7 linked regions of the Homo sapiens genome follow. The protein of the gene in region 7 purifies or fractionates together with the protein of the main gene of each other region. This does not show direct contact. Each region holds a gene or a part of one and is shown on either strand. Other genes may lie near its edges. The genes, in order: ACBD3, XPNPEP3, OMA1, SCCPDH, PIP4P2, TMEM164 and SLC26A4.

Region 1 (3,500 bases), on a different chromosome or scaffold from region 7:
TTTCATTGTGATCATAATTTTTCCCTGAAGTTTTAATTTATTGACTTTTTGGGGTCAATTATGTTAGAATAAATTGTCCATATTTGATTTTTTTATTGCTTTGGGGGCCCATACCAGATTTTGCCAATTATAGCTTCTGCCTTTGTGAATTTTCTTCTGTGACTATTCCCACCAAGTTTAATTTTTCTAATTCAAATTTTGTGTATTTAAAGTTTATCAAGATTTTTTTCTTCCATCAATTTCAAGAGCACATTACTGTGTTCAATTTTTGCCTTTAATAGTTTTATTTTGGGTTGATTATTTCTACTTTTTTTTTTTTTTTTTGAGATGGAGTTTCGCTTTTGTTGCTCAGGCTGGAATGCAATGGCACGATCTCAGGTCACTGCAACCTCCGCCTCCCGAGTTCAAGCGATTCTCCTGCCTCAGCCTCCCAAGTAGCTGGGATTACAGGCGTGTGCTGCCATGCCCAGCTAATTTTGTATTTTTAGTAGAGACGGGGTTTCACCATGTTGGTCAGGCTGGTCTTGAGCTCCTGACCTCAAATGATCCACCCACCTCCGCCTCTCAAAGTGCTGGGATTACAGGTGTGAGCCACTTTGGCTGGCCTTACTTTCATTTTTCCTGGTTAGTTTTTATGGTGATTCTCAGATCACAGAAATGTGAGCCTTAGTTGCAGGTTTTTGTCCACATTAATTTTTATTGATTTTTTATTATTTTTAGCTGTCAGTTTGATATTGTACTAATAATATTCATTATAGACAGGATAAAAACTGATAAAAATTTATTAGTAATTTCTTGAGCATAGCACTTTGGTAGGGCAAAAGCATGGTATCAGATGTACTCCAGGGCAGATGTCTTATTTGCTAGCCTTCCTGGTCAGTGTGTCTTCACTTTCTCTTGGTTTGTAGGCAGCATTACAGAAACAACAGGAAGTAGTAGTGGCTGGGTCTTCCTTGCCTACATCATCAAAAGTGAATGCAACTGTACCAAGTAATATGATGTCAGTTAATGGACAGGCCAAAACACACACTGACAGCTCCGAAAAAGAACTGGAACCAGAAGCTGCAGAAGAAGCCCTGGAGAATGGACCAAAAGGTAGGTTTTGCATATGTGTTTGTCCAGATGTCATAATTCCAAATCTGTGAAAGGCAAAAGTCATGAAGTCAGGTTATAATTAGCTTTTGAGAACAATTACATATTTGTGAGAGTTGAACATTTTTTTACTCTTTTTAGTCTGAATCTAATGCTCTGGTGACTCATAGACCAGTGTAGAAGAGCAAATCAGATGTCTTTGGACACTTTTAAGACAAAAGTTATGTTTTGTCATATATATATATATAAATTATCTATTGCTGCATAACAAATTACAGGCTGGGCGCAGTGGCTCATACCTGTAATCCCAGCACTCTGGGAGGCTGAGGCAGGAAGATCACTTGAGCCCAAGAGTTTGAGGCTGCAGTGAACTATGATTCCGCCTGCCTGGGTGACAAAGCAAGACTGTCTCTCAAAAAAAAAACAAACAAAAATTAATTACACCTAAATTTAGTAGCTTGAAATAACAATAAACATTTATTACTATCTTGTACAGCTTCAGTGGGTCAGGGTTTCAGGAGCAGTTTAGCTGAATGGCTCTGACTTAGGCTCCCTCATGAGATTGCAGTCAAGATGTTGATGCCAGGACTAGAAGATCTGCTTCCAAAATGGTTCCCTCACATGGCTGGCTTTTGGCTGGAAGCTCAATTCCTGGCCCCATGAAGCCTCTCCATAGGGCTTCTTGAGGGTCCTCAAAACAGTTACTGGCTTCCCCTAGCAGAAGTGGCAGTGTCTTTTATGCCTTGACTTTGGAACTCCCACCATATTCTGTTGGTCACACATACCAATCCTTATATATTGTGGGTGGTGACCTCACAAGTGCATGAAGACCCAGAGGTGAGAATCTCTGGGGACCATCTTGGAGGCTGGCTACCATAGAAATAGATATATTTTTGAGACTAATGTATCATGTTGCCTAGAAAATAACTGCATTTTCAAAGCTCTACTAGCTTTCCATGGGCAGCTCATTTGTTCATTCAGCAATTAGTTGAAGGTTTCCTGAGTGCTAGGAGTACAGTGGTGAGGCAAAATAACACACAGAAAATGTAGATTGTAGCTGTGATAAGTACGGTGATGGAGAGAGAGGTACATTATCTTTGAGAGAATGTAAAACAGGGAAGTGTGACCTAGTCAGAGAGGCCACCAGAGGCTTCCCAGAGGAAGGGACAATTGACCTGAGATATCTGAAGCAAGAGGAGTTAACTAAGTAAGGAGGAAGAGGAGAGCATTTCAGTGACAGTGGTCAGGGATGGTGGTATGGTTCATAAGAAATTTGGTTTCAGAGATCTTCCTTGTCTGTTTAGAACAAGTAATAATTGCTTCAGAAAAGGCTTTGAAATCCCTTGGTTTACTGCCCCCTTCCCTTTTTTTTTCTTATCAAGGGATTATACTAGCATCTTCAAATGAGAGAAAATATTTCAAAGGCTCTGTGACTAACTTTGAAAAACTTATTGCATAGTCAAGTGCACATAGGTACTGCTCAGTAACAAGACTTTACCCCTTTTTCTCAGTCCCTAGTGGTTCTAATCCTGTCCGAGTTTTTGTTTCTTTGAGCTCCTTTAGAATAGCCCCTAGAACTTTGGGATAGTTGGAGGTGAAGAATTTTTCAACAGACAGGCTGAAGTCAAAGTCCAGCTTTCTTTGTTCACATCCACAAGAGTAATTTATTCCTAAAGCCAGAATCTCTCTTCCTTGCTAGAATATTTCCCTCACTCCAGCTGGGGCCTTCCCAAGGTCATTCTTGAATCCCCATAGAGGGAGTGTTGAAAAAAATTCGTTTCTAAAATTGTGGGCTGCCATTGTTACTTGAAGAAGTACGATGACCTCTGAGTGCCTGCAACATTGTTAAACATAGTAATCTGGAGAGACTCCCATGGGGAGGCTTTTTTATTCCTCCAAGTCCTTGATCTAAGCTAGACCATATTGTACTTGGTGCCTGAGTACAACTGATCAGGTAGTGCTATGAAAATGTGGCTACCTGCAGGGTGAAGGCTCTTTTTCTTTAGCTTTTTAATACCTATTGCCTTTAGAATCTCTTCCAGTAATAGCAGCTCCATCCATGTGGACACGACCTCAGATCAAAGACTTCAAAGAGAAGATTCAGCAGGATGCAGATTCCGTGATTACAGTGGGCCGAGGAGAAGTGGTCACTGTTCGAGTACCCACCCATGAAGAAGGATCATATCTCTTTTGGGAATTTGCCACAGACAATTATGACATTGGGTTTGGGGTGTATTTTGAATGGACAGACTCTCCAAACACTGCTGTCAGCGTGCATGTCAGTGAGTCCAGCGATGACGACGAGGAGGAAGAAGGTAGAACCCTTGGTCCATATTCAGTAGCTGCTGGGTTGTGTGTTGGCAGAAATGGTACATAGTTCAGGTGTCACCCAGCCTTATGCTTCCTGA
Region 2 (3,500 bases), on a different chromosome or scaffold from region 7:
TGAAAGGTTTAAAAACCTTTAAAAAAGTGAGCTATGATTTCATACACTTTGAACGTGTAGTAGAGATTGTTTTACTTTTTAAAAATTACAACAATTGGCCGGGTGCAGTGGCTCACGCCTGTAATCCCAGCACTTCGGGAGGCCAAGGGAGGTGGATTGCCTGAGATCAGGAGTTCGAGACCAGTCTGGACAACATGGTGAAACCCCGTCTCTACTAAAAATACGAAAAAATTAGCTGGACGTGGTGGCATGCGCCTGTAATCCCAGCTACTTGGGAGGTTGAGGCAGGGGAATTGCTTGAACCAGGGAGGTGGAGGTTGCAGTGAGCCGAGATCGCGCCACTGCACTCCAGCCTGGGTGACAGAGCAAGACTACGTCTCAAAAAAAAAAAAAATTACACGACAATTAAATTTCCATCTATCGTAAGTAGGAAGGTGTTTCCCATGTAGTATATATTTAGAACCATTTTTATTTTAAAAATGAAAATATGTAGGACATAGAATCACATAGGACATAGAATCATAGAATCAGTGCATATCCAATCAAAGTTTTCTGGATTTTTTCCCCTCTACTTTCCCCAAAGTACTTTTTAGTCATATAAAATATTCAGACCTTCTCACTTGGATTGTTAGGAATACTGTTTGTAGCCTACTGTTAGAAAAAAAGAACAAATGTAGATCTGATATTAAGTGCAAATCATTTTTATAATGAGCCTTTATATCGTATATCTTAGGCAAATACAGACCATTTCCTTAGGTCTCTAAAGTTGAAAGCTGAACTGTGATTGTTTACAAAGAGAATGTATAGCAGATGCAAAGGGAGAAGTGAGGAAATATCAACTGTAGTTTTTCCATAGCAATGAATAATTGCTCCAGAATGGGAGGAGAACCCTTTCCTCTAGTACTGAGATCATTATGTGAAAGGATGGGACACTTTACCCATAAAGTCATGATCTGAGTATGTTTTTCTGTCCTTCTGTGTGCAATTATTCAACAAGTGCCTCTAGCTCAGTAAGTGGTGGTGAAGAACAGTTGTTCTAATTGTTTAATAATGAAGGCCGGGCATGGTGATTCACGCCTGTAATCTCAGCACTTTGGGAGACTGAGGCGGGTGGATCACAAGTCAGGAGTTCGAGACCAGCCTGACCAATATGGTGAAACCTCATCTCTACTGAAAATACAAAAATTAGCTGGGCATGGTGGCGGGCACCTGTAGTCCCAGCTACTTGGGAGGCTGAGGCAGAAGAATCGTTTGAACCTGGGAGGCGGAGGTTGCAGTGAGCTGAGATTGTGCCACTGCACTCCAGCCTGGGCAACAGAGCAAGACTCCATCTCAAAAATAAAGAGAGAGAGAAAGAGAGAAAATCAAAGCTTGACTAAAGCTTTAGTCCCGTATCATCCTTTATAAAGAACACTGAAGTTTAGGGGCAGAAAAGCTGTATATTCAGTCTTAGAATATCTTGCCATTTCCAGGGAATGACCTTTCTAATGATTTATAATCAAACCTTTATTGCTTCAGTCCTGAGAGAGTCTTAAGTCTCAACACTTTAGAGTTCCACGTTACAGGTTTTATAGTTTTGACTCTTGTTCAAGTCGTTATGACAGTTGATATTTCTTGTTGCTGGTAGTTTTGTTTTAAATTTATTTTTCGGCTTCTCATTCTAAGCTGAGACGAACATGGTTTGGTATGACTGGATGAGGCCCTCACATGCACAGCTTCACTCTGACTATATGCAGCCCCTGACTGAGGCCAAAGCCAAGAGCAAGAACAAGGTTCGGGGTGTTCAGCAGCTGATACAGCGCCTCCGGCTGATCAAGTCTCCTGCAGAAATTGAACGAATGCAGATTGCTGGGAAGCTGACATCACAGGTATGATTCCTATTGAAAAGTTTTTTCCAGCCGGGCGCGGTGGCTCACGCCTGTAATCCAAGCACTTTGGGAGGCCGAGGCAGGTGGATCATGAGGTCAGGAGATCGAGACCATCCTGGCTAACATGGTGAAACCCCGTCTCTACTAAAAAAACATAAAAAATTAGCCGGGCATGGTGGCGGGCTCCTGTAGTCCCAGCTACTCGGTAGGCTGAGGCAGGAGAATGGTGTGAACCCGGGAGGCAGAGCTTGCAGTGAGCCGAGATCGGGCCACTGCACTCCAGCCTGGGCGACAGAGCGAGACTCCATCTCAAAAAAAAAAAAAAAAACAAGAAAAAAAGAAAAAGTTTTTTCCAGATTGGAAAAATCGTAAGCTCTTGAGGTCGTATACCCAATGCAGCAGTCTCCTCACCGCAGAATGGCATCTAGCTTCTGCTCCAGTGTGTAGTGAACATACCTAGAGACTTGCTTAATACCTTGCAAGACAAAGTAAATCTGCCTTCTGTTAAGATGGTTCTTTTACCCATCAATCTTAATTATTTCTCCTTAGAACGACAGAAATTAATACTGTTTCTTTTCCTTATAGTTACACTAATAGTGTCAGTTAAACAGTTTGGTTCTAAGAAAGACTCAGGACCCAAAGTGACAATGCTTACAGATCTGCAGTTTATTATAGGAAAAGGGTAAAAAATAACCATAATATGAAAGTAAGGATATATATCACAGCCAATGGCTGTCTCAAAGCAAGGAGTCTAGAGAAGCCAGGTGCAGGCTTCTCTGGTCCTCCCTAGGTGAGGGCCAGGCAGGATGTATCTTTCTCTTACAGATTAGGAATCACCAGTGTTGTCATACTCTGCTCAGGCTGCCATTACAAAATATCACAGTCTGCATGGCTTAAACAAGAGAAATGTATTGTCTCATAATTTTGCAGTCTGGAAGTCCGAGATCAAGGTGCCATCATGGTCCATTTCTGGTGAGGGCTCTCCCGGCTTACAGAAGGCGGCTTTCTTGCTGTGTCCTTACATGACAGTGAAAGAGGGCCTTTTTACAAGGCCATGGTCCTATCAAATTAGAGCCCCACCCTTAATTACCTAATTTAACCTTAACTACCTCCTAAAGACATAGAGATTAGAGCTTTAACACATTAATTCTGCGGGAAACACAATTCAGTCCATGGCACATGCAACAGACTACCTCAGAATCAGAGACTCCAAAATGGAATCTCAGCTAGGGATTTTTGTTTTTTTGGTCACATAATCATATTCCTGCTACGTAACAGTAAAGCCCCCCGAGAGTTTTCACAGAGACCAAGTGTAAACCATAAATCTCACTGGCAAACTGATAGAAACTATCCCAAAACTCCCTATTTCATTTATTCTCTCCAAGGTGTTGGCCATTGACTTAATTTAAAAAAATCTTTTTACTGTGGTGAAATGTGCATAACATAAAATATATCATTTTAACCGTTTTTAAGTATGCAAATCAATGACATTAAGTACATTCACATTGTTGTGCCCACTTTTTCCCGACTTTCTCCATCATTCCAAATAGAAACTGTACAGATAAATAATAACTTCCCATTCTCCCCTCCTCCAGCCCCCAGTAACCTCTACTTTCTCTGTGAATCTACCTA
Region 3 (3,500 bases), on a different chromosome or scaffold from region 7:
GTAATATAAATTTATTCTGTGACATTTTCCTCATTGAAGATATTTTAACATAGATTAAAATACATCAATATTTCATGAAAAATAAATTCTAGAAGAATTTAGATAATATCTGTAATGTACATGATTTGACCCTGAATATCCTTTTTTTTTTCACTTCAAACATCATTTTTTAAAAAGTAACATAAAATGATAAGGACTGCAACATTCTTCATATATCTTGTGTCTCATAAATTTTAATTCAACTGCCCGTTCTTTTCTCAACTATGTATGTTAATGGTATTTGCTCCTGTTTTTGAATAGGAAGAGTATCCATTTTCTGTTTCTTCGTGATATTTAGGTCTTCTTTCTCTGATTCTTCAAGAAAATGCTTCGTGCTGAGTTTGAATAGTAATCGAGGGTCTGGATTAGACAGTGGTGGACAATTACACATCTCTCTAATTTTGAGAGCCTATAAAGAAATAATAAAATAAAAAAATACTATATATATACATCAATGTATTCAGATTGTTTCAGTAATCCCTAATATGCTCCATGTAAAACAAAGAATGTATTGTTATTTTTTTAATAAAAGGTATCTTGATTATAACACATAAAAGAGAACCACTGAAAAATCTACAGTGAACAGTTGTTTTCATGATTTGGTCAAATAGTATTATTTTAAAAACAACAACAATAGTATTAATAATCTGTAACAACTGCCCTAATGCTGTTTTGAGGGTAAACAAATCTTAGAGATACATCTATGGTTTCAGTTAAACTCTAGCAGACCGGAGAATCATTCAGATTTAAAAAGGCTCTATGAGAGATTTTTTTCAAGAAAAACTGCAGAACATAGATGACTGAATATACTGAAAAAAGATATACATAACTGATACAGTCTTGGGTAAAATTGATGATAATAACCTAGTGATATGGTTTGCATATGTCTCCACCCAAATCTCATCTTGAATTGCAGTTCCCATAATTCCCACATGTCATGGGAGGTAACTGAATCATGGAGGTGGGTGTTTCCCGTGCTGTTCTCATGATAGTGATTAAGTCTCACGAGATCTGATGGTTTTATAAAGGGCAGTTCCCCCTGCATATGCTCTCTTGACTGCCGCCATGTAAGACATGACTTTTCTCCTCATTCGCCTTCCACCATGATTGTGAGGCCATCCTCAGCCATATGGAACTGTAAGTCAATTAAACCTCTTTCCTTCATAAATTACCTAGTCTCAGGTATGTTTCATTAGCAGCATGAGAATGGACTAATATACTTAGAAAAGTAAACAAATCAAAATCATGACAATTTTTAACTCCAGGAGAAATAAAACATTGCAAAGGAAGGAAAAGTAATCACAGTGTACTATGGGGCTCAGCTATGACTAGTGCTTACAGTTTAAAATACCAAATCTTGATGAAACCAAAAAGTACAATTTCATCATACTGAGAAGGGGAGAGCTGCATGTGTGTGCACATGCACAGGGTGTGACACTGGAAAGAGAGGGCTTACGTCTCATCCTGTAAGGTGGAAAATAATTAAGGCCCAAAATTGAAGTTAGAATGTAGCAACATAAGCATGTTATTTAGACACAATGGGAAATACTAAAAGAATCGTCCAATAGAATTGGAAATAGTTACCCCTGAAACTGATGGCAGGGTTGAGGGACTGGCTGCTGATTTAAGTAACTAGCCTTAGAACTATTTAACTCTTCAAAGTGGGTATATGGATAATTTTAAGATATAAGAGCCAAAATAATTTTTAAGGATAAATGGTCTTAATATTTAGGAGTTTTAAAAGAAAGACATTTAGGGGAAAAAGCTAATTCAGTTTTTTACGACTTCTGGCTTTCTGATACTGATGTGTCTTAAGGGAAGTAAATAAGGCAGTAAAGGAGACAGTGTTTGAGGGACTGGTAAAATCTTAGAAAGACTATCCAGGCAAGGCCTCACTGATAGGATAATGACTTTGGGGGTCAAGAGGGGGACAGACCTGAAGGACATGAGGAAAGAGACCATGTGGCAACCTAGGGAAAAATCATTCCAAGAGGGAGCTGCGAGTACAAGGGAGATGGGAGCGTGCCTGGGGTGTTTTGGAACAGTGAAGAAGCAGGTACAGCCGAGTGGAGCAGGGTGGAGGGCAGGAGCAGATTATGTAGGACCTCACAGGTCATGCTAAGGATTTTAAGTTTTACTCTAAACAGCCTGCCTCTAATATTTGTGGGGTCCATGGAAAGAATGAAAATGGAGGCCCAGATACCATGTCTCTAAACACCTAAAAGCAGTAAGTCAAGCTAATACACTACTACTTAAAATCTGTTCTATTCTCCTACTTTGAAGAATACACATTCGAAATTACCTGGAAGTCCAGGTACAAAACTAGAATTCTTGAATTTCAGAACATGTAAGATTGCAGGGAGCTTACTGTGTAGCTCTTGCCACTAGCCTGCCATCTGCCCCCTCTCCCAGCCCTAGCTTATCTGGCACTGTAAAGGGCCTTGTGTGAATGTGTTCAAGGAAGAGGTCCAGATGGGCCCTGAAAGCAGGCTCAAACATATCTGGGCAAGGAATTCCATTATTCCAGATACCCTGAGTGGGGTATGGTAGGGGCACAGGTTCTTGTATGCTAACATTTCATTGAGTCCCACAGGAGAGAGGGACTTGTAGTCAGATGCGAGCCAGATAGACGTTCTCTAAGTGAATGGGGTCAGGGCAGAAGCTTGGGTCTAGGAGCACTTCTAGCTCTGATTAGGCTCTGAGTTACCAAGGTAAGCTGGAGAGTTGAAAAAACATTACTTAACGTGAAATTCTTCAGTGGCAGTGGTCTTGTCTTATTTTTCTTTGTATTTCACAGCAGATTTAAGATTTCCTTATATCTAGTGAGTGTTAAGTAAATGTTTAAGTAAACTGAATTGACACAACAAGAAAATGTTTCCCAACTATAGCACTTACAGCACTTAAGTAAACAGAAAGTCAGATCCTCAGCTAAACGGTGACCTACTGTCCAAACTGGGATACCTTTGAGAATGAAATGAGATGCTAGCAAGATTTGCACTGAGACATCAGGCATGAGCCATGACTGTCTCTGCAAAATTGGGACGTACGGTCACTCTTGCATTAGTTCCTTTACAATGATGTTAATTTTCTTTCCCAAGTGAGAAGTTTACCTGTCATGGCTGCTATATCAGTGTAGTGCCTATGTTTAAGCACTGCACTGGCATCAGTAAAGGGGGAGAGTATGGAGTCCAGCAGGTAACAACTGGCACAGCTGAGTGTGGCAATGAGAGATGCAAAGCAACAAAGAGAGGAATAGGATGCCATCCCCTAAGATCTTTGTGTATTCAGTAAAAACTCTTCTCTTATCCTTAAATTCGCTTATTCAGTCTTTTTAATACAACAAATATTTAGAACACCACAGTGAGTAAGGTGCTAGGTACACATTGGTCAGAATAGTCATGGTCCCTGCCCTCATGTAATTTACTTTGTATTTCTCCGTTACTGGGCATTAGAATTGTTCC
Region 4 (3,500 bases), on a different chromosome or scaffold from region 7:
CTCCCAAAGTGCTGGGATTACAGGCATGAGCCACCATGCCCTGCCACTGATTTGCTTATTCAGACATTTACCAGCCAAAGTTGTAATTGCAGGAAATGCAAAATATTCATAGGTCTGTCTTGCAGGTGGCCAATTTCTTATTGTCGGGAACTCAAAGGTTATTCCATTCCTTTTATGGGATCTGATGTGTCTGTTGTAAGGAGGACTCAACGTTACTTGTATGAAAATTTAGAGGAATCACCAGTAAGTATATATGGTTTATTTATCAATAAAGTGTGTGTTACAGTTCCTCTTTCTATTCAGTGTGGGATATTTTTGTTTATAAGGCAGAAAAAGGAAGAGCTAAGTAATACATGTTTCAGCCTCTGGAAATACACAGAATCATTAGGGTAGAACATTTTGTATTTTATAACCTTGTCTTTTGATTCAGATCTGGCTGCTGAATATCTTTTTAATGTAACACAATAGCAGCAAATTCAATACGGGAAATCCTGCTGTCATAAGCACCCCAGAATCCCTGTTTAGGGTTTCAGTTGCTAGAAACTCTTTTGCTTGTGGAAATGTCTGGAACCCTTTCTGTCCCCTCTCTCCTTGCCACGCCTGGAGTTCCATCCTGCTGCTTTTGGCGAGGAAAGTAATTGCTTTCATTGCCGAGACTTCAGGAGGAAATTATATTTCAAGTTAAAAGGTGGAGGGCATTTTCTTATAGGAGTCTACGTTCTGTAATGTATGATTGCTAAGCTCAGATATATTAGGGATTATGTAGATTTTTGTGCCCAAGTAGGGGAAGCTAATTACTATTTATAAACAATTTTCTTTAAAAAGTAGACTATCATACTTCCTGTTCACCAGGTCTGACAAAACAAACAAAAAATAGGCTCCCAATGTCTGGTTTCTGAACAAGATTTCAGAACATAATGCATTTGTAAAGTGGAAACTGCTTTTGTTCCACATTTGTGATGGAAGAGAAAGGTACAAGTAACTAACATTCTTACTTGGTCCAAAATGTAGGGAGTAATGTTCTAACTTTGTCTTCTCCATCATCTAGGTTCAGTATGCTGCGTATGTAACTGTGGGAGGCATCACCTCTGTTATTAAGCTGATGTTTGCAGGACTTTTCTTTTTGTTCTTTGTGAGGTTTGGAATTGGAAGGCAACTTCTCATAAAAGTAAGTAAGATTTTATGAAATTAGATTATTTTTATTAGAAGTATTTTCCATGAGTTTTAAAAAAATATCACTGACGGTTTTTTTTTCCCTTTAGTTCCCATGGTTCTTCTCCTTTGGCTATTTTTCAAAACAAGGCCCAACACAAAAACAGGTAATTTCTTTTGTATTAAGACACTAAAATAATATTTTTCTTTGTGCAATGACGGTATCATCTAACACTTGACAGGGCACTATGTTTCAGATACTCTTTTAAGTTCTTTATGTAAATTAGATTATTCAATCTTTTCAAACACCCCTTGAATGTAGGTATTATTATTATCTCCATTTTACACATCAGAGAACTGAGGCACACAGAGGCTAAGAAACTTGCCCAAGTTTCTCCAGGTAGTACATGGCCCAGCTGGGATGAGAACCCAGCCATTTAGCTCCAGAAATTGTGTTCTCTTCACTTCCAGAAATCTCAAATATTCTTCTTCCTCCATTTTTCTCCTCTGTTATCTTTTCCTTTGTGCCTCCTCTGCCCCCAGTTTCACTTCCTCTTCCACATACCCTGGATTCCGACGGGGGATCAAGTGAATTTCTGTGTGTCCAGCATCCCCAACAATAGGACTGCCTCATTTTCTACCGTTTGGCTTACAGATCCCAACCCTGGCTCAGGCCTTGGGTCATTAGCTTTCATCTCCTTGACACCAGGCACTCCTGGGGGAAATCCCACTGCTGAACAGATGGTAGCAGCAAGTTCCCGTTTCCCCCTCTGTGGAATGTTAGCATCACTTGCTGATTCTTTTCCTTTTCGTTAGTCTTGCCTCTTATCTCCTCTCAGTGGCTTTCTTCAAAATCTACCCAACTGCAGCTGTCTTCCCTATCTGTAAATTATCCCAACTCCTACCTCACTAAAATAATTGAGAGCACTGTTTTGTATCCCCTCAAATTCCTACTCTCAGACCTATCATCATTGTTCCCATCCTGACCTTCTTTCCTCCTCTCTGGATGATATACTCCCTGTACAAGGCTAATCCCCGCCTGTGCACTTAACGTAGCATCATTGTTCCATCCCGACCTTCTTTCCTCCTCTCTGGATGATATGTTCCCTGTACAAGGCTAATCCCCCGCCTGTGCACTTAATGTAGGCACTGTGCAGGAATGCGCCACCACGCCCGGATAATTTTTTTGTATTTTTAGTAGAGACACGGTTTCACCAAGTTGGGCAGGCTGGTCTTGAACTCCTGACCTCGTGATCCACCTGCCTCAGCCTCCCAAAGTGCTGGGATTACAGGCGTGAGCCACTGCGCCCGGCCTCTTTTTTCTTCTTATTGTGGTAAAATACACAAAACATAAAATGTACCATCTTAACCATTTAAAAATGCTGAGTGGTATTAAGTACATTCATCTTTTTGTGCAGCCATCACCACCATCCATGTCCAGAACACTTTTCATCTTGCACAACTGAAACTCTACACCCGTGAAACAATAACTCCTCATTTCCGCCCTCCCCCAGCCCCGGCAACCGCATTCCGCTTTCTGTCTCTATGAATTTGATGACTCCAAGTGCCTCATGTAAATGGAATCAGTCTTTGTCTTTTTGTGACTGGCTTATTTCACCTAGCGTAAGGTCTTCAAGGTTCATCCATATTGTAAGCATGTGTTCGAATTTCTTTAAGGGTGAATGATTGTCTGTTGCCTGTCTGGATCACATTTTGTGTATCCATTCATTCATCAGTGAACACATGTGTTGCCTCCAGCTTTTGGCTATTGCCAGTTATGCTGCTGCGAACATGGGTGTACAGATACCTCTTCAAGACTCTGCTTTAAATTCTTTTGGGCATATACTCAGAAATGGAATGCTAGACCGTATGTGAATTGTATATTTAACTTCTTGAGGAACCACTAAACTGTTCTGCAGAGCTGCTGCACCGTTTTACCTTCCCACAAGCAGTATACGAGAGTTCCAGTTTCTCTGCTTCCAAACCGACATCTGTTATTTTCTGTAATGGCCGTGAGGTGGTGTCTCATTGTATTTTTGATTTGCATTTACCTGATGATTATTAGTGTTGAACATCTTTTCATTTGCAATTATTGGCCATTTGTATGTCTTCTTTGGAGAAAATATTTTCAAATCATATATTTGACAGAAGATTCATATCCAGAAAATATAGAGAACTCCTAGAACTCAATAACAAAAAACAACCTAATTCAAAAATGAACAGAAGGACTTGAAAATATTTTCTGTTATTCTTTGGGTTGCCGTTTTACTTTGTGGATAGTGCAGGCTTCTGTCTCGTGGTTGGTAGTGCAGGCTTCCATCTCTTGCTTGAACTTTTCGTAGCATTCC
Region 5 (3,500 bases), on a different chromosome or scaffold from region 7:
TGCAGTTTCTTTCTTCTGTTCCTGAGTCTTATCCTGCTAGACCTAGAATGGCCTGGCTACTCCTTTCCTTGCCCTTGTCTACCTAGAAAACACCTATTTAACCTAAAAAATTAGCTGAAACATCCCTTGCTTCTACTCTTCATCTGTAGAAACATTCTGTGGCACAAAGGTTATTCTGCTGCTTATTCCTTGAACAAATTTTCTTTTCACACCTGAACAATTCTAATGTAATCAGCTGAAATGACTTACTCCCCCATCTATTCACATTTTAAGCTATCCTTAAGTCTTGTGTAATAAAGCCATCCCTGGCTGCCTTGTCTGAAAATTGTAATGTAAAGAACATTGTTTGCCGCCTTTTCCCCTTATAAATTCCTGTAGCACTAGCTACACTACCATTTTCCAGGTGTTCTTCATAATCCTAGTGTTTCATAAGGTGTTTTTGTGAAGCGAAAGATTAATAATTTGAAGAGTGAATAGTTAGATGTTTGAGAGCATTGAATGGTCTTTTCAGCTTGGAGATTCACTGTCCACATTTTTGTATATGCCCTTGACTTTCACATGCAGTAATATAAAAAACCAATTAGCTGTAAAAATCATCCTTTTAAATGCATAGCTCAGCTCATATGACAGTTGGGGACCAAAAATGAAGATTAAGTGACAACCAGGACTATCCTGAAGGTATATGCCAACACTAGGGATCTACAGCCTTGGAAGAATGAGAGAGAAGGCATTGGCCTCACACAAGGTAGCGGGGTTAGAATACTGCCTCCTCCCAATAAAGTACTTAAAGTACTCTTCCCCTGGAAAAGAGTGAGTTAGGAAAAAGAAATCAACCAGAAAAGGAAGATTGCAGAGGAAAAAATTTATAAGAACAGTGAATTTAGGTTTATATTTTTATATCACTTATGCGATCTAGGAAAACCTAGTTCCAGAAACTGACTTAAAGTTTAGGGTTAGTATCAGTCTAGGGAGCCTGCGAAAAGCAAATGAAAGTTCTGTATGTAGGAAAGCACCCCCAAACTATGCATGCCAAAATTTTTTTATATTGAGATCTGCCAAAATAAGTTTTCAACAAAAGTTACTAGTCATAGGAGAAAACAAGATTCCAGAAGCATAATCAACATTGACAACAAACAGCATAATTAGACCTCTAAAAACTTCAGATTTATAATTATTAAATATGGAGTATGTTAAAACTATGCCTAAGATGTTTTAAAATAAAAATAAGAGAAAACATGTAAGACTATTTAAAAATTACCAGGTACTCACAGAAATGTATATGTGAGTGTTTGTAGCAAATTTGACACATGCAACAGCTTGGATGAATTGAATTTATGCTGAGTAAAAAAAAAAACTTAGCCATACAAGGTTACCTGCAGTAAGATTTCATTTATGTAACATTTTTCAAATGACAAAATTGTAGAAATAGGGAACAGATTAATGATGGTGTGGCAGGCACAGGGTGCGGGATGGGCAGAAAGGAGGGTGTGGTTATAAAAGGATCCTTACAGTGATAGACTGTTCTCTATTTTAGCTGTGGCAATAGATACATGAACCTAAACGTGATAAAATTGCATAAAATTAAAGAAAAATCCATACTCATATACCTGAGAAATCTGAATATTGGTGGATTATATGAATGTTAATATCCTGTTTATAATATTGTATTATAATTTGCAAGATTTACTATGGGGGAAATAGGGCAAAACGTACATGGTATTTTTATGTGTTATTTATTACAACTGCTTGTGAATCTATAATTGTCTCAAATAGAAATTTGCAAAAAATAACCAGATAGATATAGAAAGAAACAATAGAACTTCTAGAAATTATTACAGAAATTAAAATGCACGTACGGTTTAAAGAACAGATCAGCTAAAGGTGAAGACTAAAGTTGTGAATTGGAAGATAGAGGTAAGTGAATTACCCAGAATCTAGCATAGAGAGACAAAGATGAATGTAAGATTAAGAGAAAATATATTATTAAGATGCCAATTATATATCTGATCTGGAAGGAACAAATAAAGAATGGGATATGGCATTTTAGGAGATAATCTCAAATAATTTTCAGATCTATGAAAGATATGAATTTTTATATTCAAAAAGAACAATGAAATCCAAGCAGGATAAGTAAATGTGTTACAGTGAAATTGTAGAAAACCTAAGAGAAATAGAAGGTAATTAAAAGCAGAGAGACAAAAGGCATATTTTCAATAAGAAAAAGATAACAGTTCTGTCAGCAAATGTCTCAACAGCAAAAATAGAAGCCAGAAAACAAGTTTTAAAATACATCAAAAATACTAAGAGAAATTAACTGTCAAACTGGTATTATACACCTATCTAAACCATCAAAGAATAATGAAGGTAAAATAAGTATATTTTCAAAAGCAAAACCAACAAACTTACAAACAAAACCCAGGGTATCTACCATCCTGGTACCCTTACTAAAAAAAAAAAAAACTGCTAAATGATGAACTAGGGAATATGAACAAATATTCCAGAAGAAATTTCTGCAGTGCAGGAAGGAAAGGTAAACCAAGAAATTGTAACAATTCACCAGAAACACTGACTGTATAAAATAGCCAAAACGACAGTACCAATTATATTAATGCTAATAAGTTTTGAGAAACAAAAATACAATAAAACTGAAATATTGGAAAACAGTAGCATTAAGATGCTAGTGGAATGTTTGGTGTTAAAACTTTCTAAAATCTTTATATTTATCAGGAAGATGGATTTAATAATTGACTTTAGTTTTTAAAACATATGAAAGTTAAAATTTTAAGTGCAACTGCCAAATGAATGAAATAAATTGTAAAACTTTCAGAATAATAAGAGGAAAATGAAATGAAAGAGTCATGGTCAATATAAAAGAAGTCTGGAAATAAAGGTAGAAAAGCAGAAAATACAGGAATAGTAGAAAGCCAAAATAAGGTGTCAGAAATAGTCCATGTATATCATTAGACTAATCTTGCTAGTAAAACTTAACAGTAATGGTAAGACTAGATGTAAGAACAGCTATATACAATTTGAGGAAGGAACACATGAATATTAGAACATAGAATGAATGTATAAGGATAGAAAAAGATACAACCATAAATCACTAACCAAAGGAAAAGACATACCAGGCAAACACTAGCCAACATTAAAATGTAATGTTAATATCAATTAAAATAACAGAGACTGCTGTTTTCTCCTTCCTTTTATTAGTAGACCTCTGAATTTGACTAGCCACTCAGCTAGAGATGGATTTCCTAGCCTGTCTTGCAGATAGTGTGGCCATCTTTAAGTTAGGACCAATGGAATGTGAACAAAAGTGATGAGTACAGTTTTCTGATACTCTCCTTAAAGACAAAATTGCCTGTCTTCGTTTTTTCTCTCCTCTTTGAATTGAGTGGAAAAGCCAACTGGCAGGAATGTTGTTACCTGTGTAGAGTTTGGCAATACCAATCAGGGAGTACAGCTGACTACCAACCCTAGGCTGTACATTTACCTTTAAG
Region 6 (4,175 bases), on a different chromosome or scaffold from region 7:
TGAGAGGGTTGGAGATCTATTGCAATGACAAATCCAAAGTGAAGAGGGTCAAGATATATACAGTACTAGGCCAGACCCTGTGTAAGTTCTGCCTGTGAGAGTTGAGAACTGATGCATATCCCAATCAGAAGTGAGCACAGAAAACTGTGATTTGAATCATACACTCTGTTTTAGGAAAATGTTGATAATAGATACCATTTTAATCTTGAGTGCCCCTTAAATGTGTTCCCTCTCCCTTTCCCTCTCCCCCCACCCCTCCCCCTCCCCCCTCCCTCCCTCTTTCCCTCTCTCAGGCAGCTTCAGGGAAGAATGAGCTGGAATTGGCTGGTTGGTTGGTTTTTGAGTTTGGAGAATCCTCGCATCAGGGCCCATTTCTGGAAGATTCTGTAGATCTGTTTCTTGGTTTTACAGGGCCAGTGTTGTTTCCCTAGGGCCAGATTTCTTCAGTGTATCCACACTCAGTGCTGAATTGTTTAATGTGGGGGACATCACGTCCTCCTCATCCTGTCTACCCCCAAATCCCATGTCTAGGTTGAAAGGGGGCTGCCAAAGAATTAAGTCCTCATGGGTGGAGGTTCAGGTGCTCCACAAGGAGGAGCTTTTGTTGAAGGACTTCAGCTCAGTTATGCACGGACCTCAAGCAGGCAGGAAGTGGCTGGGCATTGCTGACTCCACATTGACTCCCACTAGGAACAGATTTGCTTAAGAACAGAAAAGCTCATTTGGTGATTTTGTCTGATGAGCCTCCCTTCCCCTGTCCCACTCTAGGCAACACAGTTGACCTAGACCAGTTCCAGTATTTCCAGTTTGACCGTGTTTGACCTACACTGAGCTTCGGTGCCTCAGTGGTCATAATTTTAGCAAGTGGACCTATAGGAAGCAACCCTGGGAGGGACCGTCCTTCTGCAGAGGCCTGCGGGCATTGAGGCTATCAATCCCCAGGGCTTGGGGAGCAGGAGGGGAGGGCACCAAGTGCTCTTACTCTCCTGAGCTCCTTTTGATGCGTAAGCTTTGTTTTTGGCCCTCTTTGAAGGCAGGGCCAAACTTTTCTTAGTGCCTCTCACCTTAGGGTGGCCCTCCAGGGAAGGTGCTCCTTGAATGGCTGGATTGGCCCTGCCCACCGTCAAACTGCTACATGTAGGAATAGCTGATGAGGAAATACACAAGGCCTCAGTGCCCCTTGGCCTCTTTACAAAAGGAGAAGTTGGAAGGGGATTGTGGGAGGAGCCCCTGGGGGCCTGGTCTGTCCTCCACCAGAACTTGGAGTTGCTGCCAGCAGAGGATCTGTGCCTCAGCTGAAGACTAGCTCCGGAATGTCATAGGGGTGTGACTGTGTAGGCCTTCTCCTCCTCCTCGTTTCTGTGGCATGGCACAGGTTGCCTGGTTGCTCGAGCCTTCCCCATGTTGACATCCTCCACAAGCTTGCCTTTGCTCTGTCTACAGCTTAGTACCCCATTCTGGAGGGCACTTTCTGGTGCTTGGAAGGAGAGAAGAAAGCAAAAGCCACATGCCTGGCATGGCCAAGCCAGAGACAGATCCACCTGTCAGAGGAAGGAAGAAGTAAAGGGGGCATGCAGGGCTTTTGGGGGCCAGATTGGCTCAGAAACATGTAGGTCAAAAGAATAGAGGGGGCCCAGTCTATAGGCTTCACAAGGAGCCATGGCCTGTATTTGGGGCATTGGGGAGCATAAGGCATCTGAACTGGTCCAGATCTCACTCTTATCTTGGGCCAAGCCAACGTGGAGAGAAGCAACCCAACCAGACTCTTGGCAGCCTGCCTTACAGGGTAGCCCACCTTATAGGGTAGCCCTCATATCTGCCCTGTGCCGGCCCTCTACTGCCCCAGCTTTGGTACAGGAGTGAGGGAGAAGCTGGAGCTTGCACACCCAGTGGCCAGTGGGGCTGTCTTCCCAGCTCCTCCTCAGGGCTTTCCTGTCAGTGCCAAGCCAGTTCCCCAGCCAGGTTTCCGTGTGCCATTTGCCAGCGTGTGGGAGCTCTGCGCGTGTGTGAGGGTGTTTGTAGAAGAGGGCAGTTTCCTTTCAAATGGCCTTAGGAAGGGAAAAGAGTACTCCCTCCAGCCCCTAGGTAGCCTTGGCCAGGGATGTGGGCCAAGAACAGTCTGTGGAGCTGGCCAACTTGTGGCATCCACTCCAAATAGCAGAGACCCAGTCACGCCTGCTTCTGGTCCTCCCTGCCCTCAGTATTTGGTTTTGTACACCAAAGATGATCTGGCCCATCTTCCTCCCAGAGGCACAACAGTAACATGTTCCTCTGTCAGCCTGTGAAGGCATGCAGGGTTCTGAAGCCACAGACTCAGTCTCCCCAAGTCAGCAATCTCTTTCTCTCTCTCTCCTCAAACTTCATCGCATTCATAGAAGCTGCTTGCAGGGTCGCCGGGCTAACCAGGGTGATCGGCGAACTTTACCGTACAGTACCTCAGTCTAGCTGTCAGATCACCCCTTTTGCTGTAGCCTCTGTTGAGGTTTTTATATTTGTGATCATTGGTAATTCAGTGTCCTATGAAGTGGGCACAGCTCCCCACAGAGAGCAAGTTGTCAGCAGGTCTCTGTGCACTGGTATTGGGGCAGGGCAGTGCCCTGGGGGTAAGCTAGGTGGCTCAGGGAGTGGCAGAAGGGCCATTTTTCCCTCTGCCAAAAAGACTTCCTTGGATTTGTAGATGTTGACCCAGAGTCCTCTGTCCCCTCCTGAAGAGGATTTTCTTACTGGTTTCTACTGAAGGGGAGGTAGGGGAGGAGGAAAAAAGGACCATGTGTGATGCTGTTAGACAAGACACTGACGCTGATTATGGAGGGTCTCCTGCAGGCCCTTGTGGGCTCCTTGGCAAGGCCCCAGGCTGGGAAGGAGCTCCCCCCACTGCCCATCCTGCCCGCTTTGTGGCGGGTAGAGTCAGTGACAGGGAGGCAGCCCTCCTTTTGTGTATATAGAGTGAGCTGATTTGGGCTCAGGAAAACCTAGTCGCTTGTTGCTCTCGTCTGTGACATTTTTGTACACTGGTTTGCTACTCATGGCAAGAAACAGACAAAGCCCCATGAAAAATAAAACAAAACAAAAGTCATTTCAAACAAAGCTGTTGTTTTGAAAACTCTTGCTTTCTTTTGGTGTCCATTTTGTGTTCTATTTTAAAGAATCTTTCATTTATATTGGTGTTATTGTAGTGAAGAGAATGTGATAGGCTGATCTGTAATGGTTTCTGTCAGGAGCTTAGCAAATGCCTCTGCCCCTCTTCCCCTACCCCTGTCCTTCCTCAGTTCCCAGCTGGGATTGCTATGCACTGGGCAGACCCGTCACTGTCTCCCCTGAACCCCCACACAGTGGCTTCCCTTAGAACCAGTCTTTGTACTCTCCCTAAACAGCAGCAGGCTTAGGATTTTTGTCAGGCTGGTTCTTGCGTGCTCTGTGCCCCCACCAGTTTGCTCACCTCTTGGGGCATTTTGTAATGTGTTTTCTCTGTCTTGTAAAACCTTTTGATTGTACCGAAATGGTATCTGCAGTCGCCTTTGGAAATAAATGGTCATTAATTTGTGTACTTAGCATTCTGAATTTTAGTCTCAGGTGTTTCTGTTGTTGAAGATCCTTGAATGAAAAGGAACCCTCACCATGGGGCTTACTGTTATAATGTTTCTTCATTTACTGTTATTAAAAGATTTATGAGAACCCAGGAGTCCTGGCCTTGCTTCCCAGAACCCTCTCAGAAGGCCCTCTGCTTTGAAAAATAGACAAAAGGGGCCTCTGGCCCTCCGTACTGTGGAAGACCCTCAAAGGACAGCTGGGCTTTCTCAGCACACTTTTGTCCTGGGAGCTGCGTGGCTGGTTGCCCTTGAATTCCCACACATTGCCTACTTCTGCCAGGGACCCAGCAGGCCATTTGCTCTTAGCAGAGGGCTTGTCTGCCGGGCACGTTTGCTGGGCTCTCTGGTACCCAAAGTGCATTGGGCTAGGCTGGAGGACTGAGCTGGAGAAGGCAAACACATTCAGGCCCACTCAACCTAGATTTCCTGAGGGCCAGCTCTGCACCAGCACTTCTCAGCACAGGCCTGCACCCAGCATGGGTCGGACCATGAACAAGATAGCCTTACCCTTTGGAAGCAGACCTGCTTTTCCAAGGCTACCTGCTGAGCAGCCCATGATGACTGTGATTGGCCCTTTTTACACAG
Region 7 (2,741 bases):
TTTGGGGATGATCAGCAACTGGCAAGAGCCAACACACTGCTCCTGATTTGATACCTACACCTCTGCATACTGCTCTTCTAGAGATGTAAGGCCATGGGGTAGGAAAAAAATGAATAGAGGAAACTTCTAAGCTAGGAACTTTATAAGCCTCAGGAATAGTATGTGAGGAACAGAAACCCTATGACCTTCCTTCATATGACTGATAAAGGCTTTAAAAACACACTCTCCCCACCCTAGACTGATTCTGTGTATTTCAGATGCTCTTGTGACATCAGACTATTCCTAGGAAACTTGTCTGAACTTGTAGCATCTGAGTAAATTTTGCAGCTTCGCCACTGGATAAGAGGTGAACACTGAAGGAAGATCACAGAATTGTAAAAAGTTGAAAGATTTCTTAGAATCAAGTAGTCTAACATTCTAGCCCATGCAGAAATCCTTCCTACACCATCCTTGATGAATGTTCATTCAGCTTTTATGTGAACATTTCCAGACATTGGCCACTAGCGGCTTCTCAAGGGAGTTTGTTACATGGTTGGAAGTCTCTAAATGTTACTTGTGCTTACAGAACTCAATTTGGCCTTTCTGTAGTAACCACCTAGTGAACTGAGATCTGCCTTCCTTAGCAACACAGACCTTCCCACTGAACAGCCCTTCAAATATTTGAGAATAGTTCTCATGTCTCCAGCAGACTCTCTTCCAGTTGAGACTCTTCTAGTTCCTTCTATTCCTTACAAACAAGCAGTCAGTGCTTCTCTGGTCACGATGGGGACACAAAACCCTAAATGCGGCCAGGCCAGCATGGAGATTATTCAACCATGACCTACCTTGATCTCATCAAGATATTCCTATTACTACAGCTTAAAAATGTGTTTCCTTTCATAATAGCAACATCAGAATTTTAGCTTCTATTGAGCAGGGGCCAACTAAAGACTGGGGCATTTTCATACAAGCTATGGTCTAGTAGAGTTCCCTAGTTATATTTATTTAATTGAGCTTTGACCCTAATACAGAACTACACCTATTTCTGCTGGATTTCATCTTGTTGGTTCTTGTTTACTGACATAATTTTGTATTATTATTAGTATTATTATTATTATTATTATTTGTGACTGAGTCTTACTCTGTCACCTGGACTGGAGTGCAGTGGTACAATCTCAGCTCACTGCAATCCCTCCCTCCCAGGTTCAAGAGATTCTCACGTGTGCCTCAGCTTCCCAAGTAGTTGGGATTACAGGCGCTCGCCACCACGTCCAGATAATTTTTTTTTTTTGTATTCTTAGTAGAGACAGGGTTTTGCCATGTTGTCCAGGCTGGTCTTGAACTCCTGACCTCAAGTAATCCACCTGCCTTGCCCTCCCAGATTGCTGGGATTACAGGCATGAGCCACCACATTGGCCAGTTTTGTGTTTTGAATCTAACATCCAGGATATTGTCTACCCCAGTACCCGTTACCTGGTGTCATAATCAAATCTGATAAGCCTGCCTTCTCTGCCTTTTTCTAGGTCTTGAAAAAATGTTGCAAAGAAAACATTCAACCCCCTATAGTGAAATCAGGCAGTAAGGATGACAGGCAGAGATTTCTGTGGAGGAAATACATTGCTAGAGTGAAAATCACAGTACCTGCATCTTGGCCCACCAGCTTAGTGAGCCCAGGAAAGTCATTATCGACCTGAGAAGTCCTTTTAGCTCCAGTAGTTTATGACTCTATGGATATAGGGTGCCTTAGTTTGAGTAAAAACTCATATGTCAACATTAAAACTTAAGACTGCTATATTATAGGATATTTATTGGTTGCCACGTAAAATAATCATTCAGGGAGGGTTTCTATAGATGGTAAAACAATATAGCACAATAGTTTCAAGGGCATGGACTTTAGAACAAGACAGACCTGGGTGCTAGTCCTCATTCTGCTACTTACTGGCTGTGCACCCCAGGGCAAATTACTTATCCTGTCTTCATATTAGTATCTTCATGTAAAGTAGTAATAATACCACAGAGTTGTGAAAATTAAAGGATAAATGTAAAGTAACAAGAGCAGTGCCTTGTACATAGTAAGTGCTCAATAAATAGTAATCATTGCTCTTAAATAAATCCAATTAAAGTGTGATGAATACAGGCCAGGCTCAGTGACTCAAGCCTGTAATCCCAGCACTTTGGGAGGCTGAGGCAGGGGGATCACTTGAGGTCAGGAGTTTGAGACCAGCCTGACTAACATGGTAACCCCCCGACCATCTCTACTAAAAAAAAAAAAAAAAAAATTAGCTGGGTGTGGTGGCAGGCACCTGTAATCCCAGCTACTCGGGAGGCTGAGGCAGGAGAATTGCTTGAACCTGGGAGGCAGAGGTTGCAGTGAGCTGAGATCACGCCACAGCACTCCAGCCTGGGCAACAGTGAGTGAGATTCAGTCTCCAAAAAAAAAAAAAAGTATAATGAATACGAAATGAAGTTTTTACCCTATTTCTATTGTGATGATATACACCTAAGATGAGTAGCAGTAAGCAATCAATACTATAAAAACATATTTATAAAAAAGATAATGCAGACTTAAGGAGAATTCAGTTGTATCAACACTTTGTTTTCCCCTTGCTTCCACAGGCTATGCGTACACTTGCATCCTGAAAGTGGGTTCGGGAGGTCTCTATGAGCAAGGAATACAAGACAAAACTTCCTCAATGCATTGACTATTTCTTCAGACTCAAAACACTCATTCTTTTTTCTATTAAGCCATTGAAAGAGAAGCA

Evidence for each region.
Region 1: the proteins of SLC26A4 (region 7) and ACBD3 purify together in Homo sapiens (affinity purification with mass spectrometry; one large-scale study listed by BioGRID and IntAct). This does not show direct contact.
Region 2: the proteins of SLC26A4 (region 7) and XPNPEP3 purify together in Homo sapiens (affinity purification with mass spectrometry; one large-scale study listed by BioGRID and IntAct). This does not show direct contact.
Region 3: the proteins of SLC26A4 (region 7) and OMA1 purify together in Homo sapiens (affinity purification with mass spectrometry; one large-scale study listed by BioGRID and IntAct). This does not show direct contact.
Region 4: the proteins of SLC26A4 (region 7) and SCCPDH purify together in Homo sapiens (affinity purification with mass spectrometry; one large-scale study listed by BioGRID and IntAct). This does not show direct contact.
Region 5: the proteins of SLC26A4 (region 7) and PIP4P2 purify together in Homo sapiens (affinity purification with mass spectrometry; one large-scale study listed by BioGRID and IntAct). This does not show direct contact.
Region 6: the proteins of SLC26A4 (region 7) and TMEM164 purify together in Homo sapiens (affinity purification with mass spectrometry; one large-scale study listed by BioGRID and IntAct). This does not show direct contact.

What each region holds. Positions count from the first base shown.
Region 1 is NC_000001.11:226,152,242-226,155,741, reverse strand, and holds part of ACBD3 (Golgi resident protein GCP60), read left to right. Parts: intron 1-764; exon of another isoform or gene 765-908; coding exon 909-1,095; exon of another isoform or gene 1,096-1,139; intron 1,140-3,122; coding exon 3,123-3,407; intron 3,408-3,500. UniProt on the Homo sapiens protein: Involved in the maintenance of Golgi structure by interacting with giantin, affecting protein transport between the endoplasmic reticulum and Golgi. Involved in hormone-induced steroid biosynthesis in testicular Leydig cells.
Region 2 is NC_000022.11:40,884,648-40,888,147, forward strand, and holds part of XPNPEP3 (xaa-Pro aminopeptidase 3), read left to right. Parts: intron 1-1,665; coding exon 1,666-1,868; intron 1,869-3,500. UniProt on the Homo sapiens protein: Catalyzes the removal of a penultimate prolyl residue from the N-termini of peptides, such as Leu-Pro-Ala. Also shows low activity towards peptides with Ala or Ser at the P1 position.
Region 3 is NC_000001.11:58,480,727-58,484,226, forward strand, and holds part of OMA1 (metalloendopeptidase OMA1, mitochondrial precursor), read right to left. Parts: intron 449-3,500; coding exon 239-448; 3' UTR 1-238. UniProt on the Homo sapiens protein: Metalloprotease that is part of the quality control system in the inner membrane of mitochondria. Activated in response to various mitochondrial stress, leading to the proteolytic cleavage of target proteins, such as OPA1, UQCC3 and DELE1.
Region 4 is NC_000001.11:246,758,909-246,762,408, forward strand, and holds part of SCCPDH (saccharopine dehydrogenase-like oxidoreductase), read left to right. Parts: intron 1-125; coding exon 126-243; intron 244-1,048; coding exon 1,049-1,168; intron 1,169-1,262; coding exon 1,263-1,319; intron 1,320-3,500.
Region 5 is NC_000008.11:90,999,360-91,002,859, reverse strand, and holds part of PIP4P2 (type 2 phosphatidylinositol 4,5-bisphosphate 4-phosphatase), read left to right. Parts: intron 1-3,500. UniProt on the Homo sapiens protein: Catalyzes the hydrolysis of phosphatidylinositol-4,5-bisphosphate (PtdIns-4,5-P2) to phosphatidylinositol-4-phosphate (PtdIns-4-P).
Region 6 is NC_000023.11:110,174,114-110,178,288, forward strand, and holds the end of TMEM164 (transmembrane protein 164), read left to right. Parts: 3' UTR 1-1,659; coding exon of another isoform or gene 1,660-1,704; 3' UTR 1,705-1,802; coding exon of another isoform or gene 1,803-2,285; 3' UTR 2,286-3,675; downstream 3,676-4,175. Other genes in the region: uncharacterized protein LOC124905230, read left to right, coding at 1,660-1,704, 1,803-2,285.
Region 7 is NC_000007.14:107,712,828-107,715,568, forward strand, and holds part of SLC26A4 (pendrin), read left to right. Parts: intron 1-2,595; coding exon 2,596-2,619; 3' UTR 2,620-2,741. UniProt on the Homo sapiens protein: Sodium-independent transporter of chloride and iodide. Mediates electroneutral chloride-bicarbonate, chloride-iodide and chloride-formate exchange with 1:1 stoichiometry. Mediates electroneutral iodide-bicarbonate exchange.